4 linked regions of the Homo sapiens genome follow. The protein of the gene in region 4 purifies or fractionates together with the protein of the main gene of each other region. This does not show direct contact. Each region holds a gene or a part of one and is shown on either strand. Other genes may lie near its edges.

Evidence for each region.
Region 1: the proteins of EDEM2 (region 4) and OMA1 purify together in Homo sapiens (co-immunoprecipitation; 3 studies listed by BioGRID and IntAct, with this or other methods). This does not show direct contact.
Region 2: the proteins of EDEM2 (region 4) and UHMK1 purify together in Homo sapiens (co-immunoprecipitation; 3 studies listed by BioGRID and IntAct, with this or other methods). This does not show direct contact.
Region 3: the proteins of EDEM2 (region 4) and SLC38A10 purify together in Homo sapiens (co-immunoprecipitation; 3 studies listed by BioGRID and IntAct, with this or other methods). This does not show direct contact.

Annotation. Positions count from the first base shown.
Region 1 is NC_000001.11:58,480,727-58,487,753, forward strand, and holds part of OMA1 (metalloendopeptidase OMA1, mitochondrial precursor), read right to left. Parts: intron 449-7,027; coding exon 239-448; 3' UTR 1-238. UniProt on the Homo sapiens protein: Metalloprotease that is part of the quality control system in the inner membrane of mitochondria. Activated in response to various mitochondrial stress, leading to the proteolytic cleavage of target proteins, such as OPA1, UQCC3 and DELE1.
Region 2 is NC_000001.11:162,493,448-162,500,827, reverse strand, and holds the start of UHMK1 (serine/threonine-protein kinase Kist), read right to left. Parts: upstream 3,011-7,380; 5' UTR 2,828-3,010; coding exon 2,560-2,827; intron 874-2,559; coding exon 581-873; intron 1-580. UniProt on the Homo sapiens protein: Upon serum stimulation, phosphorylates CDKN1B/p27Kip1, thus controlling CDKN1B subcellular location and cell cycle progression in G1 phase. May be involved in trafficking and/or processing of RNA.
Region 3 is NC_000017.11:81,244,287-81,250,310, forward strand, and holds the end of SLC38A10 (solute carrier family 38 member 10), read right to left. Parts: intron 5,808-6,024; coding exon of another isoform or gene 5,784-5,807; intron 2,776-5,783; coding exon 2,599-2,775; intron 2,388-2,598; coding exon 1,270-2,387; 3' UTR 525-1,269; downstream 1-524. UniProt on the Homo sapiens protein: Facilitates bidirectional transport of amino acids. May act as a glutamate sensor that regulates glutamate-glutamine cycle and mTOR signaling in the brain. The transport mechanism remains to be elucidated.
Region 4 is NC_000020.11:35,116,332-35,123,358, forward strand, and holds part of EDEM2 (ER degradation-enhancing alpha-mannosidase-like protein 2 isoform 1 precursor), read right to left. Parts: intron 2,389-7,027; coding exon 2,267-2,388; intron 877-2,266; exon of another isoform or gene 805-876; intron 1-804. Other genes in the region: MMP24-AS1-EDEM2 (ER degradation-enhancing alpha-mannosidase-like protein 2), read right to left, coding at 2,267-2,388. UniProt on the Homo sapiens protein: Involved in the endoplasmic reticulum-associated degradation (ERAD) pathway that targets misfolded glycoproteins for degradation in an N-glycan-dependent manner.

The sequences.
Region 1 (7,027 bases), on a different chromosome or scaffold from region 4:
GTAATATAAATTTATTCTGTGACATTTTCCTCATTGAAGATATTTTAACATAGATTAAAATACATCAATATTTCATGAAAAATAAATTCTAGAAGAATTTAGATAATATCTGTAATGTACATGATTTGACCCTGAATATCCTTTTTTTTTTCACTTCAAACATCATTTTTTAAAAAGTAACATAAAATGATAAGGACTGCAACATTCTTCATATATCTTGTGTCTCATAAATTTTAATTCAACTGCCCGTTCTTTTCTCAACTATGTATGTTAATGGTATTTGCTCCTGTTTTTGAATAGGAAGAGTATCCATTTTCTGTTTCTTCGTGATATTTAGGTCTTCTTTCTCTGATTCTTCAAGAAAATGCTTCGTGCTGAGTTTGAATAGTAATCGAGGGTCTGGATTAGACAGTGGTGGACAATTACACATCTCTCTAATTTTGAGAGCCTATAAAGAAATAATAAAATAAAAAAATACTATATATATACATCAATGTATTCAGATTGTTTCAGTAATCCCTAATATGCTCCATGTAAAACAAAGAATGTATTGTTATTTTTTTAATAAAAGGTATCTTGATTATAACACATAAAAGAGAACCACTGAAAAATCTACAGTGAACAGTTGTTTTCATGATTTGGTCAAATAGTATTATTTTAAAAACAACAACAATAGTATTAATAATCTGTAACAACTGCCCTAATGCTGTTTTGAGGGTAAACAAATCTTAGAGATACATCTATGGTTTCAGTTAAACTCTAGCAGACCGGAGAATCATTCAGATTTAAAAAGGCTCTATGAGAGATTTTTTTCAAGAAAAACTGCAGAACATAGATGACTGAATATACTGAAAAAAGATATACATAACTGATACAGTCTTGGGTAAAATTGATGATAATAACCTAGTGATATGGTTTGCATATGTCTCCACCCAAATCTCATCTTGAATTGCAGTTCCCATAATTCCCACATGTCATGGGAGGTAACTGAATCATGGAGGTGGGTGTTTCCCGTGCTGTTCTCATGATAGTGATTAAGTCTCACGAGATCTGATGGTTTTATAAAGGGCAGTTCCCCCTGCATATGCTCTCTTGACTGCCGCCATGTAAGACATGACTTTTCTCCTCATTCGCCTTCCACCATGATTGTGAGGCCATCCTCAGCCATATGGAACTGTAAGTCAATTAAACCTCTTTCCTTCATAAATTACCTAGTCTCAGGTATGTTTCATTAGCAGCATGAGAATGGACTAATATACTTAGAAAAGTAAACAAATCAAAATCATGACAATTTTTAACTCCAGGAGAAATAAAACATTGCAAAGGAAGGAAAAGTAATCACAGTGTACTATGGGGCTCAGCTATGACTAGTGCTTACAGTTTAAAATACCAAATCTTGATGAAACCAAAAAGTACAATTTCATCATACTGAGAAGGGGAGAGCTGCATGTGTGTGCACATGCACAGGGTGTGACACTGGAAAGAGAGGGCTTACGTCTCATCCTGTAAGGTGGAAAATAATTAAGGCCCAAAATTGAAGTTAGAATGTAGCAACATAAGCATGTTATTTAGACACAATGGGAAATACTAAAAGAATCGTCCAATAGAATTGGAAATAGTTACCCCTGAAACTGATGGCAGGGTTGAGGGACTGGCTGCTGATTTAAGTAACTAGCCTTAGAACTATTTAACTCTTCAAAGTGGGTATATGGATAATTTTAAGATATAAGAGCCAAAATAATTTTTAAGGATAAATGGTCTTAATATTTAGGAGTTTTAAAAGAAAGACATTTAGGGGAAAAAGCTAATTCAGTTTTTTACGACTTCTGGCTTTCTGATACTGATGTGTCTTAAGGGAAGTAAATAAGGCAGTAAAGGAGACAGTGTTTGAGGGACTGGTAAAATCTTAGAAAGACTATCCAGGCAAGGCCTCACTGATAGGATAATGACTTTGGGGGTCAAGAGGGGGACAGACCTGAAGGACATGAGGAAAGAGACCATGTGGCAACCTAGGGAAAAATCATTCCAAGAGGGAGCTGCGAGTACAAGGGAGATGGGAGCGTGCCTGGGGTGTTTTGGAACAGTGAAGAAGCAGGTACAGCCGAGTGGAGCAGGGTGGAGGGCAGGAGCAGATTATGTAGGACCTCACAGGTCATGCTAAGGATTTTAAGTTTTACTCTAAACAGCCTGCCTCTAATATTTGTGGGGTCCATGGAAAGAATGAAAATGGAGGCCCAGATACCATGTCTCTAAACACCTAAAAGCAGTAAGTCAAGCTAATACACTACTACTTAAAATCTGTTCTATTCTCCTACTTTGAAGAATACACATTCGAAATTACCTGGAAGTCCAGGTACAAAACTAGAATTCTTGAATTTCAGAACATGTAAGATTGCAGGGAGCTTACTGTGTAGCTCTTGCCACTAGCCTGCCATCTGCCCCCTCTCCCAGCCCTAGCTTATCTGGCACTGTAAAGGGCCTTGTGTGAATGTGTTCAAGGAAGAGGTCCAGATGGGCCCTGAAAGCAGGCTCAAACATATCTGGGCAAGGAATTCCATTATTCCAGATACCCTGAGTGGGGTATGGTAGGGGCACAGGTTCTTGTATGCTAACATTTCATTGAGTCCCACAGGAGAGAGGGACTTGTAGTCAGATGCGAGCCAGATAGACGTTCTCTAAGTGAATGGGGTCAGGGCAGAAGCTTGGGTCTAGGAGCACTTCTAGCTCTGATTAGGCTCTGAGTTACCAAGGTAAGCTGGAGAGTTGAAAAAACATTACTTAACGTGAAATTCTTCAGTGGCAGTGGTCTTGTCTTATTTTTCTTTGTATTTCACAGCAGATTTAAGATTTCCTTATATCTAGTGAGTGTTAAGTAAATGTTTAAGTAAACTGAATTGACACAACAAGAAAATGTTTCCCAACTATAGCACTTACAGCACTTAAGTAAACAGAAAGTCAGATCCTCAGCTAAACGGTGACCTACTGTCCAAACTGGGATACCTTTGAGAATGAAATGAGATGCTAGCAAGATTTGCACTGAGACATCAGGCATGAGCCATGACTGTCTCTGCAAAATTGGGACGTACGGTCACTCTTGCATTAGTTCCTTTACAATGATGTTAATTTTCTTTCCCAAGTGAGAAGTTTACCTGTCATGGCTGCTATATCAGTGTAGTGCCTATGTTTAAGCACTGCACTGGCATCAGTAAAGGGGGAGAGTATGGAGTCCAGCAGGTAACAACTGGCACAGCTGAGTGTGGCAATGAGAGATGCAAAGCAACAAAGAGAGGAATAGGATGCCATCCCCTAAGATCTTTGTGTATTCAGTAAAAACTCTTCTCTTATCCTTAAATTCGCTTATTCAGTCTTTTTAATACAACAAATATTTAGAACACCACAGTGAGTAAGGTGCTAGGTACACATTGGTCAGAATAGTCATGGTCCCTGCCCTCATGTAATTTACTTTGTATTTCTCCGTTACTGGGCATTAGAATTGTTCCCACAGTTGTGTCTATTTGGCTTTTATAAATTACCCTGCTATAAAAACTTTTCTTTAAAAAAATCTTTTCTCACCTCCATTTGGAGATATGTGAAGTCTAACACCCAAAATAGAATGATCTGATCAAAGAGTAAGCACAGGTAGATTATACTTTTTGTTATATAGGACCAAACTGCTTTCTACCAGAAAGGCTTTATCAACCTTTAATGTCACCAGTAATACAGGCATACTTGAGTTATTCACAGTTATTCACATAACATTTCATGACTTTTATATAGATAATTACATAATTTCAAACCTCAGAATCCTTAGAAAATATCAGCTCAATTTTACAGATGAGGAAACTGAGTCTCAGAGAAGTTAAATGCCGGGCAAGGAACAAAAAGCTGGCTTGGTAAATGTTTTTAACAGCTTTATTTGCTAAAACTTGGAAATAACCAAGATTTCCTTCGATAGGTGAATGGATAAACTGTGGGATATCCAGACAAAAGAATATTATTCAGATCTAAGAAGAAATTAGCTATCAAGCCATGAAAAGATATGAGGAACCTTAAACGTATATTGCTAAGAGAAAAAAGCCAATCTGAAAAGGCTACATGATTCCAACTATATGATATTCTGGAAAAGGCACAACTATGGAGACAGTAAAAAGATCAGTGGTTGCCAGGGGCTAGGGGGAGGGAGGAATGAGTAGGCACAGAGTGTATTTTTATGGCAGTGAAACTACTCTGCATGATGCTATAATGGTGGATACATGTCATTATACATTTGTCAAAATGCACTGAATGTACAGCACCAAGAGTAAACCCTAATGGACTTTGGGTGATAATGATGGGTCAACATAGGTTCATCAATTGTAACTAATATTATCACTCTGGCATGGGATTTTGATGGTATGGGAGGCTGTGAGTATGCGGGGACAGATGTATAAGGGAAATCTCTATACCTTCTACTCAATTAAAAGTTGAAGCTTTAGAGTCTAAAAATAAAAGAGTCTACTACTAAAAAAAAAAAAAAAAAAAAAAAAAAAAGCTGGCCTGGAAGTAAAAAAGCTGGGTTTAGAACCTGTTTTGTTTCTACCGCTTTTGCTCTACATGCTTTTTGTGCTCATGCTTTTTTGTATCACATGATATTTCTTGAGTAAATTTTTTACTGAATAAATGTACTTTGGAGATGTCTGAGCTAGGTTTCTTTAATTGCTAGAAACACTATATGTTCTTCATACAGGTTTTCTATCACTACTTCTTCATGTGTGAACTGTTTCTCCTCCCCAAATATCTATCAAGCAGAATCCTGTTATGACCATACATATTTCTATCAAATCTTCATCTACTTTGCATAGTAAGATTCTATTGGATGTCTTGGTAACTTATTTTTTCTTTTTTCCTTTCCTTTCCATATTCATTTTATATATTTCAGGGCGCCAATGTCTTTTTATTTTTATAAATTCTAATCTATCTTATTAAATATATCTTCATCTCTTCAAAAGTGAGCAAAATTTTCCTACCATATAGCTAGAATATGTCTTTCCACTTCCTTTACTTTGTTTTCTGTGTTTAACTCCACGCACTGCACATAACAGGCACTTAACAAACGCATGCTAAATTTTAAACAAACATTTATAGAACACCAGCTATGAATAAATCATTATGATAAATGTCATAGAGAAAATACTCTTAGGAGTTTATGGTTTAAGAAAAAGCAGGAATGTATTTTAATAGCAAGAATATATGGTTCTGAGAATCCTGAGGAAGATTTGAAGTTAAATATAGAATTAGCCAGCCTAAAGACTACAACTATGAGTGAAAGAAACTAACATCTACTGTTCACTTTCTATGTGCCTTTCACTGCGTGAGGTATTTTACACATCTAAATTGACATTGGAATTTGAACCACTTTTGAAATCTTGGGCCTGACATAAAATACTTATCATTAAAATGTCTATGCCAAAGAGAGGGGGACAAGGCAAAGAAGACAGCAGGACCTTACCTACAGAAATGCACAAGTATGTACATCCAACATCTAGGAGATATTGCTATCCTGATTTCACATATGAAGAAAACTAAAGGTTGGATTAGGTAACTTTCTCCAAGTTACATGGCTGAGTCAGAATTAAAACCGAAGACTCCTAAGACCACTGTTATCTTTATATTACTATTTCCTGCGACCATCTTTCTCCCGTTACCAACTATTAATGTCCTACATGCTAAATTTCTATAAGGGAGTGGAAGGACTGTTCAATTCTACTGCCAATTTTTCTATTTTTCACCCACTATTATATTGCTTATCCTGCCTATTATTACACATCATGCAATCATTTAACTAATATTCACTAATCATCTCAACTTCTCATAGGTACTATGGATACAGCAGTGTACAAAGGCCTTACACACTAGGGTAAAAGCCAATAAACAAATAAGGTAATTTTAGTTAAGTACATGAAGAAACTAAAGAGTGAGGTGTGTTGGACGGACAATGAGTACATGGAAGGGAAGCGATTTAAGATTATGGGATCAAAGAAAGCCTCCCCAGGACAGTGACATTTGCCTAAAGAACTGAGGGAAGAATGTTTCAGACAGAGAAATCAGCAAGTAGAAGAGCTGTAAGGAGGACACTAGCTTAATGGGGGACATACCCTGGTCTTGTATGTTTCCTAAACCAAGGAAAGCCTAAGGAAAGGGGCATGTGGTGAAGTTGGAGAGCTAGGCAGTGGCCAAATTACGTGCCTGGAAGACATAGGAAGAGTCTGGATTTTTATTCTAAGTTAGATGAGAAGCCACTAGAGGGTTTTAACCAAGGAAAGGACATTACAATGATCACTCTGGCTACATATTGAAAATAGGTTGTTAGGAGTTGAGGTGAAACGTGACATCGTGAGGTGAAAAGTGACAACAGGAAATGACTGCGGTAACTTGGGAGGAGATGATGGTGACTTTTACTAGGAAAGGAGCAGTGGCGAAGTTGAGAAGCCCACAGATTCTTAATGTACTTGTTAAAGCAGTCAAGATTTTTTCATGAATAGGACACAGAAGTGAAGGAAAGAGGAACTGAAGATGAGTCCTAAATTTCCTCTTCTGTTTTAATAGCTTTTCTTTTATGATGCTGCTCATGCATTTGAGGATAATTAACTTGCTCACAGTAAATAATTACTGTAATATAATATCGTATTGTCAATTAATGACCCCAGTCCATAAATTCTTTTAAAGTTATTGTTTTTATCAAATTGTCAAAACAAAATCATTTATGCTTGTAAAATGAATCAGAAACTTAATAACATACCTTTCTACATTTTGAAGGTAGAACTAATTAGTAACTAGGCAATTGTTCTCTGAACTTCTGAAAAAATTCTCCAAATTAAATCCCATCAGGGCTAGGCGTCCTTTTCTTTGCTAATTTATTATGACTCTATGGGTTCTAATAGTTTTTTAAATTTGATTTATTTATACCTTACTTCTTTCTAAAGTAATTTAGTAATTTGTAATTTGTAAATTAGTAATTTGAGAAGCTTCATTCTAGCTATAATTTCTA
Region 2 (7,380 bases), on a different chromosome or scaffold from region 4:
TGCAGTAAACCCACTGCCAAGCTAAATGCTAAAAATTTTTAGTCCTTGATTACCATAATTCTTTGGTTCATTAACTGGGCAGTTCTCAGAGGCAAGCTGTACATTTCCATATAGCGCTCATAAAGAAGTCTTCTTTGGATTGTCTCTTACCTATTAGGCACTGCTGATAATAAGGACACTGCAAAGAAATGATAAACCATGGAGAAAAGAGGATTTGGCAGAACTATCATATGCATTCTGCCACGAGATACAGCCCCAACACTGAAGAGACCAGGAATAGTAACTCAGCAATTAGCCAAACACGCATAAAATTTAAAAAACCATTCTATGTAGGTTAAGTACTTTTAATAATTCCAGAGCTCTCATGCTTCACTGGCTCCTCCTACCTGACCCAAACATTATGTCCTTTTTTTACACGGTGGCACTGAAATTCTTTTGATTTACTGCATCCCCTGGCATTTCAGTAATTTAGGTTAAAATGACTTGTAAGCCCCTACTAAACTACCCTTGTCATTTAAAAATATTTGGCTTCAACCACTACATTTTAAACTGCGAGAGAAAAGAAAAGGTTATTTCTTACCTGATTGCCTTCTTTGAAGCTAAGTCCAAAGTCAATGAGTTTAAAACATTCATTCTCTGCACTCCACAATATGTTACGTGGTTTGAGGTCCGCATGGACATAGCCCTCATGATGAAGAAAAGCAAGGGCCTCCAAAACATCTCGGGCACAATGCTGTATCATCCACATGGAACAACCCTGGTGACTGGAATATAAGAGCAATTCCGAAACACTGACATCCAGGAGTTCAAGCAACAGACAGCGTGATGGCACATTTGGAGAAAAGTGGATTGTAAACACTCCATACAAAGTCACTAGAAAAAGAAATTATAATACTTTAAAAATCAGACTCAGAGTAAGTCACTACTAAAGTAGGTAACTGCAGTACAAATTTGAGATAGTCTAGATAAGGATAACTTTGATGAGCAAGCTTCCACTGTAATTTATTTTTCCCATGAATAAGATCTTTTGGCAATTGGGTTATTTTAATAAAAATAAGATGAGACAGCCTACAACAGCTGATTACCATTCACAGATACTAAATATGGTACAATTATTCAATTTGTGTTTCACCAAGTACTCATTGGTGATGAACACGAACTTGGAGTGCCAAGCAAAAATGATTAAAAGTAAAAAACCTAAATATAAATAAATAAAACTTACTGTTGCATCATGAGGTCCTTTAAAAAAAAAGAAATTTTTAAAAGTAAAAACCCAAATATTAAGTAACTCTTTTAAAAGGAATGTCACAATGCGCAAAAACCAAACTAAACATTGCTTCTTCATCCAAAACAGCAGTCTAGGTCTGCCACGGTGGCTCATGCCCGTGATCCCAGCATTCTGAGAGACCGAGGCAGGAGGACTGCTTGAGCCCAGGAGTTTGGAGACCAGCCTGGGTAACAAAAGGGGACCTCTTCTCTACAAAAAATTAGCCAGGCTTGGTGCTACGTGCCTGTAGTCCCAGCTACCTGGGAGGCTGAGGTAGGAGCATGGCTTTAGGAGGAATTGGAGGCTGGAGTGAACTGTGATCTCGCCATTGTACTCCAGCCTGGGTGACAGAGTAAGAACTTGTCTCAAAAAAAAAAACTAAAACAAAAATAAACAGCTCTCTATAATCTAAATACTAACAAAGAGATTAAGACTTTTCGGATGAAATTTTAATCTTGCAGAGATCAGGCAAGTCCCTAGGCTTGCAAAATTTTTCCCTTTTCAATACCAAGGTTATAGTAACAGACCATTTAGTAAACTAAAAAAATGTAGCACTAGTGTTAATTCTTCTCCAAAATGATATTATAAAAAAACTCACTCTTCAAATTAACTATGCATCATACTTGCTAGGAAATAAGACTTTTCTTTAATAACCAAAGCTATAACTAATGATAAGCTTTCTGTCGTGTAATGAAAATGAAACCTTTTCACAGATCAATCATCAGTGATCATTACATATCTTACATTCTGAGTATCTGATTCTTGAAACAGTCTCAAGAGAGCAAAGGTATAGTGTTCCTAAATTTCACACTTCTATAAAGGCTCCCATGGAATAGTGCATCATTTCTTCCAAATCCGTACTAAAGATATAATAGGTGAGCTATACGAGTTACTAGCATTGATGTCACAAGGCCCAGACGTAGTTCCCATTTTCTACTGGTATGCAAAGATTCAAAAATTTCCACACAAGACACGACAATCTAGCAAAGACATGCCTCCTCTCACTAGAAAAGATATTTCTGTATGCTAATGAATGCGGCATTCTCCGATGAGACTCGAAGCAAGACAATTTACTGAGCATCTATGTGACACCTGGCAAAGCAGACCACCAACTCCACTATACCGCAGACAGTAATAAAGTGAAAGGGGAAAGGGGCCTGGATGGGGTGATAAAGAGGGCTAAACCCGCTTCTCCCGCAGAAGGGGAGGAAGATGGAACGCCAGACAGCGAGAGGAAGAGTGTGCTCGGACTGTGACCTGGGCAAGAAGAGAAAGGAGACAGCGGCAATTACCGATGTTTCTGTGACCCTGCAACTGTTCCAGCGCCGCCCTCTCTTTGCGGAAACCATACTCGGCGGCAGAGGCCGCAGCCCCGGTGGTTCCTGGCGGCAAGAACTGCTTGAGGGCGCCGGGGGGCGAGCCAGGGTTGCCGCAGCAGCGAACCCGATACACCGAGGCGGAGGAGCCGCTACCCAGACGGCTCTGTACCTGCCACAGCCGCCCGAAGGCCTCCAGAAAACGCGGCGGCTCCGCGCCCCAGGCGCAGCCGGATCCCGCCATCGGTGTGGGTTAAGGGCACGGACACGGGAGCTGACGCGACGCCTGAGGCAGGCCGGCCGGGCCCGCGGTCACATCTCCGCCAGCCGGACCAGCGGCTCCGCAGGGAGGGACCTGCAGCCGCCTCACCGACTCCCGGGACTTCAAGCAGCCATGACACCGGAAGCCGTGGTGCACCCGAGTCCCAGAAGCCGGAAATGGAGGAAGAGCCTATCATACAGGCCGAAGGAGGGGGGGCTCAGAAGGGGCGGGGCCTAGAAGAGATTAGACGCGCTAGGTTTGGAAAAAAGAACCGAGAATAAGAAGTAACCTTAATTATTGAGTATCTACCATTCCAGGCCCAGTGTTAACCGCTTTCACATAGACCTGAAGCCAAAACTGGTCCTTTTTCTTGTTGAGGCACCTCACCTTACCTCACCACTAGGAACCCGAAAAATAAAACCCGGCCTACATTTCTCATAGAAAGGATCCCAAGGAAAACACCCCAGGAACAAAAAGAGAGTTTACCATCACCTCCAGGTCCACGGTCACCAGAACCCATGATTCTGGAAGCCTAGACCTTTGTTCTTCTTTTAGATGTAAACCGAAAATACAATTCTAAGCCCCCCGTGTCGCCAACCATCGGAATGGACTTTCTCCCAGGCCAGGGCACTCTAAAATTCTGGTTCAGTCCATGACGGGAAGTGGGGGTCCGACTAGCCTCATACCTCTCCGGTTAAGGTCAACACAGACCTTCGGTCTGGTAAGAAACATTTACAATCTATTTTCTTGGAAGCCTGGTACCTGGAGGCTTCATCTGCATGACAAAACTTTGGTCTCCACAAGTTCTTATGACAACCCAGACATTCCTTTCTATTGATAACTCTTTCAACCAATTGCCAATTAGAAAAATTTTAAATCTACCTATAACCTGGAAGGACCCATTTCTCCCCCCACCAATTCCCGCTTCGAGTTTTCCCACCTTTCTGGGCCAAATCAATGTATTTCTTAAATATATTTGATTGAAGTCTCATGTCTCCCAAAATGTATAAAACCAAGCTGCACCCCAACCACCTTGGGTACATGTTCTCAGGATCTCCTGAGGGCTGTGTCACAGACCATGGTCACTCATAGTTGGCTCAGAATAAATCTCTTCAAATATTTTACAGAGTTTAACTCTTTTTATCAACATAGTCCACCTTGCCTATGGCTCCCTCATCAAAAAGCATTCACCCTGGGCAAACACGGATCTGTTCCAAATTTTTATTTTTCATTTATTTATTCAATTATTTTATTCATTCAGCAAACGTTTATTGAGTAACAAATGTAGCAAATAGGCATCTCAATCCACAAACTCGAGTGTGTAAGAAATGTAGCCTTCTTTACTTTTCAGTCATTCAACCTTTTCTATTTCAAGATCTATTCTGATTGTGTGGCAAAAACTTAGTATCAGACAATAGGCCCTATCTTCTTTTCTTCAGGTTTTGTGTAAGTTCCCAGCCAGATGAGATGGTTCATGTAGTGCTAAGTGGAAAGTTTGAGGAGAGGTTGAGGACTAAACTCTGACCTGTCTTCTCTCTTGCTCAATTTTTTTTTTTTTTTTTTTTTTTTTTGGTAAGACGGAGTTTCGCTCTTGTTGCCCAGGCTGGGGTGCAATGGCATGATCTCGGCATCTCCGCCCACCGCAACCTCCTCCTCCTGGGGTCCAGCGATTCTCCTGCCTCAGCCTCCCAAGTAGCTGGAATTACAGGAATTTGCCACCATGCCAGCTAATTTTGTATTTTTAGTAGAGATGAAGTTTCTCCATGTTGGTCAGGCTGGTCTCGAACTCCTGCCCTTGTGATCCGCCTGCCTCACCTTCCCAAAGTGCTGGGATTACAAGCGTGAGCCACTGCACCTGGCCCCAAATTCTTATCTAAGGGATGTGAGGAGTCACAGCCTACAAACCATAAAATCTCATCAGATTGTCAGAGGTGTTCAAACCAGAGCAACTCCATCTTGAATAGGAGCTGGGTAAAATAAGGCTCAGATCTACTGGGCTGCATTTCCAGGAAGTTAGGTATTCTAAGTCACAGGATGAGATAGGAGGTCAACACAAGATACAGGTCACAAAGACCTTGCTGATAAAACAGATTGCAGTAAAGAAGCCAGCCAAAACCCACCAAAACCAAAATGGTGGTGAAGGTGACCTCTGGTCGTCCTTACTACTCATTAGATGCTAATTATAATACATTAGCATGCTAAAGGAAACTCTTACCAGCACCATTACAATTTACAAATGGTATGGCAACGTCCTGGAAGTTACCCTACATGGTCTAAAAAGAGGAGGAACCCTCAGTTCCAGGAATTGCCCACTCCTTTCCTGGAAAACTCATGAATAATCCACCCCTTGTTTAGCATATAATCAAGAAATAACTATAAATATGAATAACTATAAGTCGAGCAGCCTAAGCTGTTGCTCTGCCTATGGAGTAGCCATTCTTTTATCCCTTTTACTTCCTAATAAACTTGCTTTATGGACTCATTCTGAATTCTTTCTTGCGTGAGGTCCAAGAACCCTCTCCTGGGGTCTGGATTGAGACCACTTTCCAGTAACAAGATAGGTTGGTTGGTTGGTTTGTTTGTTTGAGACAAAGTCTCACTCTATCACCCAGGCTGGAGTGCAGTGGCGTGATCTCAGCTCACTGCAACCTCTGCCTCCTGGGTTCAAGGAATTCTCCCACCTCAGCCTCCCGAGTAGCTGGGATTATAGGCATGCGCCACCATGCCCGGTTAAATTTTGTATTTTTAGTAGAGACGGGGTTTTGCCATGTTGGTCAGGCTGGCCTCGAACTCCTGACCTCAGGTAATCCTCCTACCTTGGCCTCCCAAAGTGTTAGGATTACAGGCATGAGCCACTGCACCCGGCCACAAGATGGGTTTTGTTTAACCCCATATAACGTGACTTACTTTCCAACCTAACTCTGGCATAACATCACATGACAGATAAAGAAGGAAATACAAATATTTTAACCCCAAATATATTTCCTTTTTTTTTTTTGAGACGGAATTTCGCTCTTGTTGCCTAGGCTGGAGTGCAATGGCACGATCTTGACTCACCGCAACCTCCGCCTCTTGGGTTCAAGCGATTCTCCTGCCTCAGCCTCCCGAGTAGCTGGGATTACAGGCATCCACCACCACGCCCCGCTAATTTTGTATTTTCACCATGTTGGCCAGGATGGTCTCTATCTCTTGACCTTGTGATCTGCCTGCCTCAGCCTCCCAAAGTGCTGGGATTACAGGCGTGAGCCACCATGCCCGGCCTCTTTTTTTTTTGAGACAGAGTTTTGCTTTTTTTTTGAGATGGAATTTCACCCAGGCTGGAGTGCAATGGTGCGATCTTGGCTCACTGCAACCTCTCCCTCCCGAGTTCAAACAATTCTCCTGCCTCAGCCTCCCAAGTAGCTGGGATTATTCGTGCCTGCCACCACACCCAGCTAATTTTTTATTTTTAGTAGAGTTGAGGTTTCACCACGTTGGCCAGGCTGATCTCGAACTCCTGAGCTCAGGTAATCCACCCATCTTGGCCTCCCGAAGTGCTGGGATAACAGGCATGAGCCACTGTGCCTAGCCCCCAAATATGTTGCTTTGCTATATTTTGAAATGGCCCTGCAAAGCCTGTCTTTTGTGGGGGAAATTTGCATCTGTAAATAATCTGTGTTAACATAACTATGGCTTTTCCCCCTTCCAGGCCCTCCCAACCCTGAAGATATTAAATGAGAGTCTAGCACCTTCTAAAGGTCCAAATAAGAAACATTTTTCATCTATTGTCTCTAAGGATGACCATCTATGAGACTTCATCTACATAATGAGATTCTTGGTCTCTACAACCCCTTATCTTTTTTATTTCTTATTAATTTTAATTTTTATTTAAGTTCCGGGGTACACGTGCAGGATGTGCAGGCTTATTACATAGGTAGGTAAATGTGTGCCATGGTAGTTTGCTGCACCTACCAACCCATCAGCTAGGTATTAAGCCCAGCATACCTTAGCTATTTTTCTCAATGCTCTCCCTCCTCCCATCCCATCCCCAACAGGCCCCAGTGTGTGTTGTTACCCTCCCTGTATCTATGTATTCTCACTATACAACTCCTTATCTTATCCAAGATACTCCTTTCTATTGATTACAGGACAATAACTCTTTCAAACGACTGCAATCAGAAAATCTTTGAATCCACCCATGACCTGAAAGCCATCACCCCTGCTTTGTTGCACCTTTCTAGACCAATCCAGTGTGTACCCACGTATATTGATTGATGTCTTATGTTTCCCTAAAACATATAAAACCAAGATGTAATCCAAACATATTGGGAGCTTGTTCTCAGGACTTCTTGAGACTATGCCTTGGGCCATGGCCACTCATATTTGGCTCAGAATAAATCTTCTCAAATATTTTACAGAGTTTGGCTTTTTTCATTGACACATCTGCTTTTCAGTATCATTTTTCATCATCTTGTCTGGTTGTCACTGAGATGTGTGCACTCTCCTGCTCTTTTTCTTCTTCTTTTTTTAGAGACAGAGTCTCACTTGTTGCCCAG
Region 3 (6,024 bases), on a different chromosome or scaffold from region 4:
GTGACATCCTTCAAGGGAAGAAACTATAATAAAGAGCCAAAAGGATATCAAAAGGTGCAGGAAGACACCACCAGAGGCTGAGGCCGGCCCTCCATGCAGGGACCCTTCGCCAACACGGGCCTCCCCCAGACCCAGGCCCTGGTCCTCTGCCCTTCGTGGCAGGGTTTCGTGGCAGGGTTGGGGCGCAAGCTCCCCAGAGGACGAGCCAAAGCAGACTCGGATGCTGTGGACACAGCAGCACCTCCTCTCTCCCGCCAGGTGAGAGGGCTGTGGAGCGTGTCCTGGTCACGAGGCAGCACGCCCGTCAGCCTGGCCCTGGGGGCTGGACCACCTCCTGGCACCAGGCGGCTCTGCCTGCTCACAGGGTCTCTCTGGGGCTGTGCTGCGTCTAGTGTCCAGTCACTGCGACGCTCAGGTCATGGCGCCGTTCCCTCATGACCTCTGGCCTCTGCTTTACACATCTGGAATCCTGAGCCGGCCTCAGGCTTTCCTTTCAGTCACTCCCCCAGGACCAACTTCACTAATCAGGTTATCAGTGGTGTTTTTTACTTTTTAAAAAAAGCCACAATTGGATTTTGAAAAACACAGACAATGGAGGGCTGGGCCAACCATGAGGAGTGCAAAGGGCGGCACCGGCCAGTGCCCCTGGACACCCGGCTTGTCTGGCCCCTGCTCCCTGTGCTTCCTGGACACCAAACAGCATCCACCGAGGCTGGGTGAAGGCAAAAGTGTTTATTCAAGACTTTCTACCACACTGTGGGAAGCATCGATAAACAGTCATAATAATTATCATTCTGAGTCACTGCAAGCGTGGGGTTGGATGCTGGCTCTCACAGTAGCCTGTGTTGGGACCATGAGCAGCCATGCGCACCTCCACGCACGGCCGAGCTCAACCCGAAGACCACGCGTGCTCCCTGGCAGGAGCAGGAGGCCTGACCACAGACGCAGCAGCTCCCCAGCCTGAGCCTGGGAGTGCACCAGCCAGCTCGCAGCGGAGGCCGTTTCTCCTCACAGGCTGGAGTGAGCTCAGAGTCTAGAGGTCAGAGGACCTCAGACTAAGAGCTGCAACAGAACGACAGCAAGAACATTCTGGAAACGATGCCACAGTGAATCTTTTATACTGTCACTCACACTTGGTGAGGGCCTCAGACATGAAACCCTGGGGAGAGGCGAGTGTGACCTCCAGAGTTTGGCTGGGATGCGGCTGAGACAGACCTGCTGCTGGCCGAGGAGGGCAGTGGCTGGCGTGGCCCTCATGGCCAGCAGGTGCTAGGACTCCTCTGGAGGCCCAGGCGCCTGTCTAAGCTGCCGGCTGTGGACCACCTGCAGAGCTCCCCCCGCAGCCTGGCGGAGCTGGGCATCCAGGGCGCCACGGAGGTCGTTCACCTGGACATCAGGCAGGGGGTTAAGGCCAATGATGACCCCATCCCTCGGGGCCAGCTGACCCTCTGCATGAGGGCCAAGGTCCCGCCGTCGCCTCCGGAGGTCGGAGCCAGCCTGCAGTTTCAGGTCCCGGTTGGGCTTGGCATTGTCCGGCCTCTGGCCCCCCGGGACAGCTCGTTTGAGCCCCAGCTCTGGCTCTGGCCTCTGCCTGGGCTCCTGGACAGCAGCGTCCTCCCCGCCTCTCGGCTGCTCGTGGGACACAGGCACATGGTCCCCCCCGCGGGCCTTTCTCATCTCCAGGTGACCGCCATGGTCCAGCCGGTGGCCCTGCTGTCCACCCTGCTCGCCATCAGAGATGACCCGCAGTTCCGGCTGGCGTAACACAGCCTGGGGCTGTGCAGCTGCTCCTTCCGCCCCACCGGGCAGGTCCGCTGCAAGGCCCAGGTCTCGGCTCACTTGCTTGGGCTTCATGCGAGGGTCCCCCGTCTCTGCTCCTGGCCCTGCCACGAGCCAGTTGGCTTCCTTCAGAATGCTGGTGCCAGTGGCTGCCACCTCCTTCCCAGGTTTTTTCCTGTCTTGGGAACCGCCAGTAACGTCCTGACTTTGCCCAGGGAATTCCTCTGCGAGGCGCTCCTCTGGGCCCCCGGCTTCCCTGGCGGGGTCTGGCACGGGCACCTGCTCCGGGCCCTTGGGGAGCTCCTTCACAGTGCCAGCTGCCCTGGGGGCGGCATCCTTCTGGCCATCTCTCAGCTTGGCCTGGGCTGCCCGAGGCTCTGTGTCAGGGCCGCCGTCAGGAGGGCCAGCAGGGTCTCTGCCCACAGGCCCCTCAGAGTGCTCCAGGGAGCGCTGGTTAAGGTCCTGGGATGGAGCAGGGCGGCCCCCAGGAGCTCTGAGGACAGGGTCCAAAGGCAGGGGAGGCAGATTCTCCACCGTCTCCCTGGCCTTGCCTTCAGGGGCCTCCTGGCCTCTGGGCACCGCTGCCCCGGGCTCTTGATGCACCTCCACTGCAAATGAAGTCGGTCATCAATTTAGCCACAGCACTGTACACAGGCTGCCAGTGGAGGGGCTCAGAAGAACCAGCAACAACAGCATTGGGAACCAAAACCAGACTCACGCTCAGGTCTAGAGGCCACCGAGCCTCAGACCCAGCCGCATGAGGACAGCAGGAGACCCCCTGCCTGGCCCCACCCCACTCCATCCGCCAGCCCGGCCTACCCTGCCTGGGTTTATCCTCCTCGTCCTCCTGCCTCTGCTGGTGGATCTCCTTGTGCTGCTCCTCGATCACCGCCAGCAGCTTCTCCTGCTGGTCCAGCAAGCGCTTTTGCTGCACCTGCTGTTCTTTGATCACCTGAAGCAGGACGGCGTGGTCCAGCATCTCCGCCCTGCCAGCTTCTGGGTTTGGAAAGCACACAGTCAGAGTGCCCGGGCTGCTCATGCACCGTGCTGGGCCAGGGACGGCGCGGCCCACAGCAAGGCAACGCACAGGTCACCTGCAGGGAGTGTGCCCGAACACTGGCCACTGGTGACACCCATCATGACTGTGACCGTGAAGCCCGGACAGCTCAGTGATGCACGCAGGCCTGAGGGCCCGGGAGAGGCTGCGCCCTGACTGCCCCTGGAAGCCCACCCGGGATGGCCTCTCCCGCACAGCCAGCCACTGTGCCGCATCAGTTCTCCCACTGGCTGTGCCCCAGGCGCACCCGGCAGGACCCCAGCAAGCCTGCTCGTTGCCCATGGAAGTGAGTGTCCAGAGCAACAGTCAAAAGGAATGTGCCAGAATGTCAGAGATGGTTATCTGGGCTGGGTGGGGTTTTGTTTTTGTTTTTTCCACTTTACACATTCAGTTGTTCTAGGACAAGCACGTAAGAAAATAAGCCTGGGCACGGCGGCTCACGCCTGTAATCCCAGCAATTTGGGAGGCGGAGGCAGGCAGATCGCTTGAGCCCAGGAGTTAGAGACCAGCCTGGGAAACATAGCAAGACCCCCATCTCCACAAAAACAAAAAAAACAAAAAAATAAAAATGATCAGGGTATGGTGAGAGGCGTCTGTACTCCCAGCTACTCGGGGGGCAGAGGCCAGAGGATCATTTGAGCCCAGGAGGTCGAGGCTGCAGTGAGCCGTGATCACACCACTGCACTCCAGCCTGGGCAACAGAGCAAGACCCTGTCTCAAAAAAGAAAAAAAGAAAAGAAAAACTGTAAGCTATGTTTTGAAAAGAATATTGGTACTTCTAGAAAGTTTCCTCCGAGATGAGAATTTTAAAAACAAACAAAAGCTGTCTTTTTTTTTTTTTTTTTTTTTTTTGAGACGGGAGTCTCACTCTGTCACCCAGGCTGGAGTGCAGTGGCGCGATCTCAGCTCACTGCAAGCTCCGCCTCCCGGGTTCACGCCATTCTTCTGCCTCAGCCTCCCGAGTAGCTGGGACTACAGACGCCCGCCACCGCGCCCGGCTAATGTTTTGTATTTTTAGTAGAGATGGGGTTTCACCGTGTTAGCCAGGATGGTCTTGATCTCCTGACCTCGTGATTCGCACACCTCAGCCTCGCAAAGTGCTGGGATTACAGGCATGAGCCACCGCACCCGGCCAAAAGCTGTCTTCTAAGGGGAGCATGGGAGCTGGAGCGTCAGTGAGGCCCCCGCCAGCCATCCTAACCACCGCTCCTGAACACCATCCACTGTGGAAATTCTGGGCAGGTCCTGCGTGATGGGGAGCCCCAGTGCACCCCGTGTTAAGAGCTGGTGCCTGCAGCAAGGGCCAGAGGACAGGCCTGCCCGGGTTACGGCTGGCACACACTTGGTGCAGGAGCACCCGGTCTGACTCGCTTCAACACTGGCCAGTTATTTGCCGCAAGCGGCTGTGACTTATGTCATTTTTACAAGATGTTTTCAAATTATTATAGGAAGCTTTGAAAAATGATGGGTTAGGGCTGTGAGGCATAAAAGTTCAATCCAGGAGCGAGAAGGATGTTTTGTGAGTGGTGAGAGCAAATATCTCAGGGACGGCCCTGCATGCCAGGCATAGACTGACGTGCCGGCCCAGCCTCCCCAGTGGTGACACCATGACCAGCCAGAGAAGTGCAGGGTCAGCATTCTCCCAGGAACGCAGCCCTGGGCCTCGCCCAGACCCCTGGATGTGGGGGACAGGGCTGGCTCCAAGGAGATCAGGGCCATGGGGCCGGCCCTCAAGCAGCAGCCCCTGCTCCCTGCTAGCACCCCGGGCCAGACGCCTGCCTGCAGGGAAAGGCCATGACGGGCAGAGCAGGTCTCCCGCACACCTCCTTTCACAGGAGGAAGTGCAGGTGGCAGACCAGCCACCTCGGCCGTGGGCCACGTGCTCGCCCTGGGTGCTGCGGGGCTCAACCACGGAATGTCAATGGTACAAGGACGAGATCCCATGTGCTGGTGACACCTCCCCATACTCCAGGGCAGGGTTCCGAAAGAGCAGGCACCATGGCCTCACTTGCTCCTCAAAGGACTAGCCCTGGGCCTGGTGCTGGGAAGAGGAGGAAAGAGGAGACAGAAGGGAGGAGGGGGAGGGGGAGGAGGGAGGGAGAAAGAGGAGGAGGGAGAAGGAAGGTGGGGGAAGAGGAGGAGGGAGGAGGAGGAAGGAGGGAAGAGGAGGAAGGAGGGAAGAGGAGGAAGGAGGGAAGAGGAGGAAGGAGGGAAGAGGAGGAAGGAGGGAAGAGGAGGAGGAGGGAGGGAAGAGGAGCAGGAGGGAGGGAAGAGGAGGATGAAGGAGGGAGGGAAGAGGAGGGAGAAGGAGGGAGGGAGAAGGAGGGAGGGAAGAGGAGGGAGGAGGGAAGAGGAGGGAGGAGAGAAGAGGAGGGAGAAGGAGGGAGGAGGGAAGAGGAGGGAGGAAGGAAGAGGAAGAGGAGGAAAAAAGAGGGGGAGGGGGGAAGGAGCCATGCCACGTCCAGCCAGAAGCCACGTGGGACACATGTGAAGCACCGTGGAGGAGACAGGCTGTTCCTACAGCCAGAGCCCACCAAGACCACGGGGACTGGGCTGCAGAAGGCACGAAGCCACCCACCTGTTGAGACCCATGCAGATCTGTCAAGGTGGCCCATGAGGCAGCAGTGCAGGCAGCGTCCCCCCTTGGCTGGTGCCCTAAGCAGCCTGCACTCAGACGCTTGCAGAGACCAGCTGCCCTCTGATGACAGGCAAGGCCACAGCAGGGCTGAGAAGGACCACGGCATTTGTAACACAAGGGAGCAGAGTGGGCATCGGGACCCTGCCTGAGGGGCTGTGGCTGAGCCTGGGTGCGTGCGCAGGTCTGGGGCCTGACACGTGTCCCCATGCAGGGCTGTCCCTGGGGCAGGTGTGCCACCGAGGGGCTGCGCTCAGGTCTGTGGCCCGCCAGACAGGCTCTTGACTTCAGCACACTCCTTTGGGTTCGTACCTGCTACTATCTTTTTAATTTCAGCTGCTCGTCCCGTTGAGAGGCATACGGAAGAAAGGCAGAATAGGAAACCGTGAAAAGTCTTTTTCAGAAAGAAGAAAATCAAAAGAATCAAACAGGTTCAGGTAACAGAGCATAGGAATTGGAACCAACAAACATGGCCAGACTAAAACCGGAGACAAAACCCCACATGCCCGAACTCCTGAAGTGGCTCAGAGCTCCGGGAGCCCAGGGGGCGCCT
Region 4 (7,027 bases):
TTCCTGTCAATTCTCTACTCACAACTTTCTGTGAGCCCTCCATTTCATGCAGGATAAAAATGCAAGTCATGACCTGGCCCCTGCTCCCTTCCTGCCCTCACCTCTTACCACTCTAAGAGCTCCAGCTGCTGCCTTTCTGTCCTGAGCTAGCACAGCACCCTCCTGCTTCGGGCTCTTTGCATCTGTGGTTCTTTCAGCCTGGAGCACTCCGCCTCCAGTTTTTCTCATAGCTTGTTCCCTCCCTTCCTTCAGGTCTCTGCTCAAATGCTTCCTCACCAGAAAGGTCTCCGCTAACCTTGCTCTATGACATGACAATCTCCTATCCCCTTTATCCCAACTTTTTGTGACTATAAACATAGAGCTAATCGTCCCTTTTAATGATGGCAGAGTATTCCATCGTGAAAATGGATCACCATTTACTTGGCTAATCCTCCTTGGAAGGGCATTCAGATGATTACCAAGTTTTTTTTTTTTTAGAGATGGAGTTTCACTCTGTTGCCCAGGCTGGAGTGCAATGGCATGGTCTCGGCTCACTGCAACCTCTGCCTCCCGGGTTCAAGCAATTCTCCTGCCTCAGCCTCCAGAGTAGCTGGGACTACAGGCACATGCCACCACACCCAGGTAATTTTTTTTGTATTTTTAGTAGAGACAGGGTTTCACCATGTTGGTCAGGCTGGTCTTGAACTCCTGACCTCGTGATCCGCCTGCCTTGGCCTCCCAAAGTGCCGGGATTACAAGCCTGAGCCACTGCGCTTGGCCAATTACCAAGTTTTTGTAAGCAACTAATAAGGGGTCTTTTTTTCTCCACTCAGACCCAAAGTATCGACACTTACTAGGTTCAACTGCTGTTGATGAAAACTATTGACATTGTTTTAGTAAGGAGTCTTATTTAGAGAATTTCAACTGAGTTTTCAGGCATGGATGACTAAGATTACTTGCTACAAACATTTATTTTAGCTTCTCAGAATTAGTAATACTTCTAAACAAAACATTCTCAGTGGACTCTATCTTACATTTAAAAATATGACTCAAATATGGTCTTGATGTATCAAGATGATTATTTCCTTGCCCTGTTTGAGAAAGGTCAGACCCCTGTTCCCATCATTCACCATGGAAGACCTCCAAAGGGCTTCATGTTCATGGAAATGAGCCCAGCATTCCTAGGAAGGCCCCAGTGGGCTTATCATTTTGGTTTTTCACACAATACAGCATATTAGAAACCAAATCATATCAGGGGTTTATTTTTTCCCTTCCACATGTAGGTCTTCTCTCTTCCCCTACACATATCTATATTTTACTTATAGAATATAATCACATTACAAACTTTTGCAAAATAAGTGTTTTGTTGTTGTTTTGAATTCCATACCCCAACACTGTAGGCTTTTCAGGGGATTTTCTTCCAGACTATTTTCTTCTACTTTCATATTTATATCTTGCCTGCTTGGTTCCTGCATGGATGTGAGATGGCTCTCACCTTTGACCCTTTCAATCTATTCTTCACAAAGCAGCCAAAGCGATCTTTCTAAAATACAAATCAGATCATGTCACTGCTCTGCTGTAAATCCTACCAAGGGTTCACATTCCAAGTAGAAAAAAAAACCCAAACTCTTTCCTGTGGCTTACACAAAACCCTACATGATCTAGCCCCTGCCTACCTCTGGGACCTTATCTCTTCCCACTTTTCTCCTTGCTTGCTCCGCTCCAGCCACACTGGCCTTCTGTCTACCAGATACACATTCATGGTTTTTTTCTCATTAAAATGTAAGCTCCATGAGAGCAAGGCCACTGCTGTAACCCTTGGGCCTAGCAGAGTGCCTGGCATGTGAAAGACATTCAAGAAATATCTGTGAGACTAAGCAGGACTGCTTTGTTAAGGAGTCCCAGGTTTGAATATAGGGCTATGGGACTCTGGATTCCCCTTAAAATCTATTTTAGTGTCTCACAAAACTTTTCGCTAAACTCACCTTTTCAAAGTCACCTATTCAAACAGATCAAAGATCTCCACTGTGGGAGGAATGCCAAGGGCCGGGGTCAAGATCCCAAGGAACTAATTCTAGCTCTACCTCTACTAGCTGTGAGATCTTTAGCAAGGCACTTAGCTTCTCTGTTCTTTGGTCTCCCCATCTGTAAAATATGAGCATTATGTATATCTCCAAGGTCCCTTCTAGTGCTGATATGTCAGAACTCCCAAAGCTCTACCCTTAAAGAGGCTTTTTAGCAGCAAGGGGAGACTCTTCCCAGTTCTTGGGGCCATGCAAACACTTACTGTTGCAAATCCGCACTCCACCTTGCTGATTTTTTCAATGGATTCCACAGCATCTCTTCCGAGTTCTAGGAGGGTGGGATCCCCCGTGGCACGGTAGAGGTACATTGCGCTTTCAATAAGTTCTGCAAAGTCCAAAGCAGACCCTCCTCACTCAGTGGCTGCACAGAGATGGCCTGGGGCCTCTTAGGGCCGTGAGGGACTACTCCCCTCCATATCTTGTCCATAAGGCCCCAACTAGCAGGAACACAGGATACCTCACCCAGTGCTGAGTTTCAGAGCCAGTATACCCAAAGCTTGAAGCTCAGTGGAGACCAGCATTAAGGCTGACCAGTGACTTCCACCACAAGGGAGAGAAAGGTGGCCAGGTTCTGGCATAGAGAAGGTGGCGGAGGTTGTTGCCTAATTCCCAATATCTGTTCCCCGCTTCCTCCTTAGTAGCAGGATTCCTAACTTTAGCTAAGCACAGGCTGCCTGGCTGCCAACACTAACTATTCTAACAGCTAGGTGGGATTAAGGACACCATGGCGAGCCATATAAGCCCAGAACATGAGAGAGAAATACATTTCTATCCTAATTAAGCTACTATTTTTTTTCCTGTCACTCAGAGTCTAACCTAATTCTAAAACTCAAAAGAAGAGTAAGAGCTTGGCATCATAAGGCTCGTTCTAAGATAGGATGGACCAAAAGAAAAGGCTGAGATATCCAAGAGCAGGCCAGGCATGGTGGGTGGCTCATGCCTGTAATCCCAGCACTTTGGGAGGCCAAGGTGAGAGGATCGTTTGAACCCAGGAGTTTGAGACCAGCCTGGGCAACATGGCGAGATCTTGTCTCTACAAAAATTAAAAATGATTAGCTGGGTGTGGCATGCACCTGTAGTCCTAGCTACTCAGGAGGCTGAGGTAGGAGGATCACTTGAGCCCAGGAGTTTGAGGCTGCAGTGAGCCATGATTAAGCCACTGCGGCACTCCAGCCTGGATGACAAGAGTGAGACCTTATCTCAAAAAATAAAAATTAAAAAAATAAAATAAAATAAACCACCAAACCGTCAATCTAACAAAGACGTAGTCATCAGTTCACTGTGGCCAGAAAAAGTGATGTTTTGTCTTGCCCAATTCTATGCCACAACTGGAACTTGATGTTAAGACATGAGCTCTACCTTAAGATGAATATTAGCCAACAGGAGTGGGTCCAGATGAGAATATTTATTCTAGAGATAAGGAAATCCAAAAAAAATGTGTTTATTGCTTTCAAATACCTGAAGAACTGTTGTAGAGTTGACTTCAAGGGTGGCCTCAGCTCAGTATGTTTTTCTACTTCATCCATCTTTTCTAAGAGACAGAAGAACCCCTGTCTCCTTTCTATACCATCATCTCCCCCTGACCTTCTCCTGTCCTGTTTCCTCCTGGGCTTGATCAGTGCTTCTGTCCCTTTTGGCTTATTGCTGCAAACTCTGGTTCTTATTTTATTCCGTTAATTACTTTTTTGTGACAGAGTCTCACTCTGTCACCCAGGCTGGAGTGCCATGGTGCGATCTCCGCTCACTGCAACTCTGCCTCCTGGGTTCAAGGGATTCTCATGCCTCAACCTCCCAAGTAGCTGGAATTACAGGCATGCGCCACCAGCCCTGACTAATTTTTGTATTTTTAGTGGAGACAGGGTTTCGCCATGTTGGCCAGGCTGGTCTCAAACTCCTGACCTCAAGTCATCCGCCAGTCTTGGCTTCCTGAAGTGTTGAGATAACAGGCGTGAGTCACTGCACCCAGCCTCTAGTTCTTATTTTAGAGAAAAGGTCTCTGCCTATCTCCCCAGTTCTCTCTTACTTCCTCCTCCCCTCTCCTCACAGGCCTCTAGACAATTGCTAATCTAATTGCTCATATTCTAAGGCACAGACTAGGGTACATTCATTACTAGATGAACACATTCTGTGTGTTCAAAGGCAGAAAAGACAGTGCCCTCATGGGAGGCCTCCTCTTCTGCTTCTTTTTTCGGCTTCTTCTTTTTTTTTTTTTTTTTTTTTTGAGAGGGAGTTTTGCTGTGTTACCCAGGCTAGAGTGCAATGGCATGATCTTGGCTCACTGCAACCTCTGCCTCCCAGGTTCAAGCAATTCTCCTGTCTCAGCCTCCTGAGTAGCTGGGACTACAGGCACATGCCACCGTGCCCGGCTAATTTTTGTATTTTTAGTAGAGACAGGGTTTCGCCATATTGGTCAGGCTGGTCTCGAACTCCTGACCTCAGTTGATCCACCGCCTTGGCCTCCCAAAGTGCTGGGATTACAGGCGTGAGCCACCACACCCAGCCCTCTTCTGCTTCTAGCAGCTGGTGGGCCAGTGCCCTCATGACCAGCCATCACGCTTCTCTCCTCACATGTGGGCCTCCTAAGCATGTTAGTTATTGCTTTACTTTCCTGTGCATCTGACCAACTCTGTCGAGCAGTGGTCCCCAACCGTTTTGGCACCAGGGACCAGTTTCATGGAAGACAATTTTTCCATGAACTGGGCTTGTAGGAGATGGTTTTGGGATAATTCATGTGCATTACATTTATTGTGCACTTTATTTATATTATTATTACATTGTAATATATAATGAAATAATTATACAATCCACCATAATGTAGAGTCAGTGGGAGCCCTGAGTTTGTTTTCCTGCAACTAGACAGCCCTATCTGGGGTTGATGGATGACAGTGACAGATCATCAGGCATCAGCTTCTCCTAAGGAGCACACAACCTAGATCCCTCACATATGCAGTTCACAATAGGGTTTGTGCTCCTATGAACGTCTAATGCCACCACGGATAAGACAAGAGGCGGAGCTCAGGCAGCAATGTGAGCGATGAGGAGCAGCTATAAATATAGATGAAGCTTTGCTTGCTCACACGCAGCTCACCTCCTGCTGTGTGGCCTGGTTTCTAACAGGCCATGGACTTGTACCGGTCCACGGCCTGGGGGTTGGGGAATCCCTGCTCTAGAGGAAGGAGACAGCCCAAAGTTCAGATTTGGACTTAGAGGAAGGTAAAAGCCTGCAGAGGCCTTTAGGCTAGGCTCTGTGCTCCAACACTGCTGATCAGAGAGACATATACGAAAGTACAGGGCTCTGGCCAATTTAGTGAAAGAGTAGTCCTTATCTCCTATTTGCCATTGTTTTGGGGTAGGAGGGATGACTGGATTAACGCACTCCTGGATTCCTGACAGCGGTGCCTTATGTTTTTTTTTTTTGGAGACAGGGTCTCACTCCATTGCCCAGGCTGGATTGCAGTGGCGCCATCATGGCTCACTGCAGCTACGACCACCTGGGCTCAAGTGATCCTCCCAGGTAGCTGGGATGGGACTACAGGCATGCAACACCACTCTTGGCTAATTTATTTATATTTCTTATAGAGACAAGGTCTTGCTATGTTGCCCAGGCTGATCTTGAACCCCTGGGCTTAAATGATCCTCCTGCCTCAGGCTTCCAGAGTGCTGGGATTACAGGCATAAGCCACTGCATCTGGCCAGTAGTGTCTTACTTTCCATGAATGCCTTCCTGCCAGCCTGTCCCAAATGGAACAGGTTGCCTCTGTTAAGTAGCAAGCTCCTTGTCACTCGTGGTAACTAAGCAAAAACTAGATAACCACTTGACAGGGCCATATTAGGAAAATTCCAATTAGAACACCTCTCAGGTTCCCTCTAACCCTAAGATTGTGCAAGCCTATGTCTTACATTTAGTTCCAAACCCTAATCTTTACCTGTTGGTAACACCAGATACGATACCTTCTCAGAGCTTCTTATTTTTAAAATTTACTTATTTATTTTTTTGAGATGGAGTTTTGCTCTTTTTTGCCCAGGCTGGAGTGCAATGGCGTGATCTCAGCTCACTGCAACTTCTACCTCCCGGGTTCAAGCGATTCTACTGTCTCAGCCTCCCCAGTAGCTGAGATTACAGGTGCACGCCACCATGCCCAGCTAATTTTGTATTTTTAGTAGAGATGGGGTTTCACCATGTTGGCCAGGCTGGTCTCAAACTCCTGACTTCAGGTGATCCACCTGCCTTGGCCTCCCAAAGTGCTGGGATTACAGGCGTGAGCCACCATGCCCAACCAAGTTTCCTGTTTTAAAAACATGCCATGAGAACAAATGCATGAGAAACATCAATAACAGTGGCCTCTAAGGAGTCAAAAGTTGATGAATTTGCTCTTTATTCCCTCTCCTGGTCCCCTCTACACCTCCTACGATAATCACTTGAGTTAGAAGAGGAAGGAAATGGGGTAGAGGAAGGCAGGATAACCAGAAGGCCTGTCCCATGGCTAAAAGGCAATTCAGGTGGGAAAGTGGGAAGTGTCTAAGACAATGGGCTCATAGCCTGTTTTGGGGTGGGGGATGACTATGTGTGCTGACTAAGCTTCCTTCCTTTGTCCCTCTTTTTCTTTCCCTCCTCACAATTTTCAGCTTCCCTGAAGTGAATCAAATGACATTAGGGCTAGAAAGGAACCTATGAGAGTGTCTCAAATATAGTCCTTTGCTTGATTCTGAGCTGCAAATGGGGAGGTGGAAGAGACTAGGTAATTCCTAAGGTCCGCCCCAAAGTTCTAACATTCCATACACGTAAGCATAATTTATCTGACCCATGGACTTAGGAAGCTTGCCTACACTTCTGAAATCCTGATGGCAGGAGCTCAAAAGGAGTCAACCTTGGCCTTTTCCTTCTCACTCATTTCCTGATTTGAAAGAGCATATGGGGCCAGTCGCAGTGGCTCACATCTGTAATCCCAGCACTTTGGGAGGCC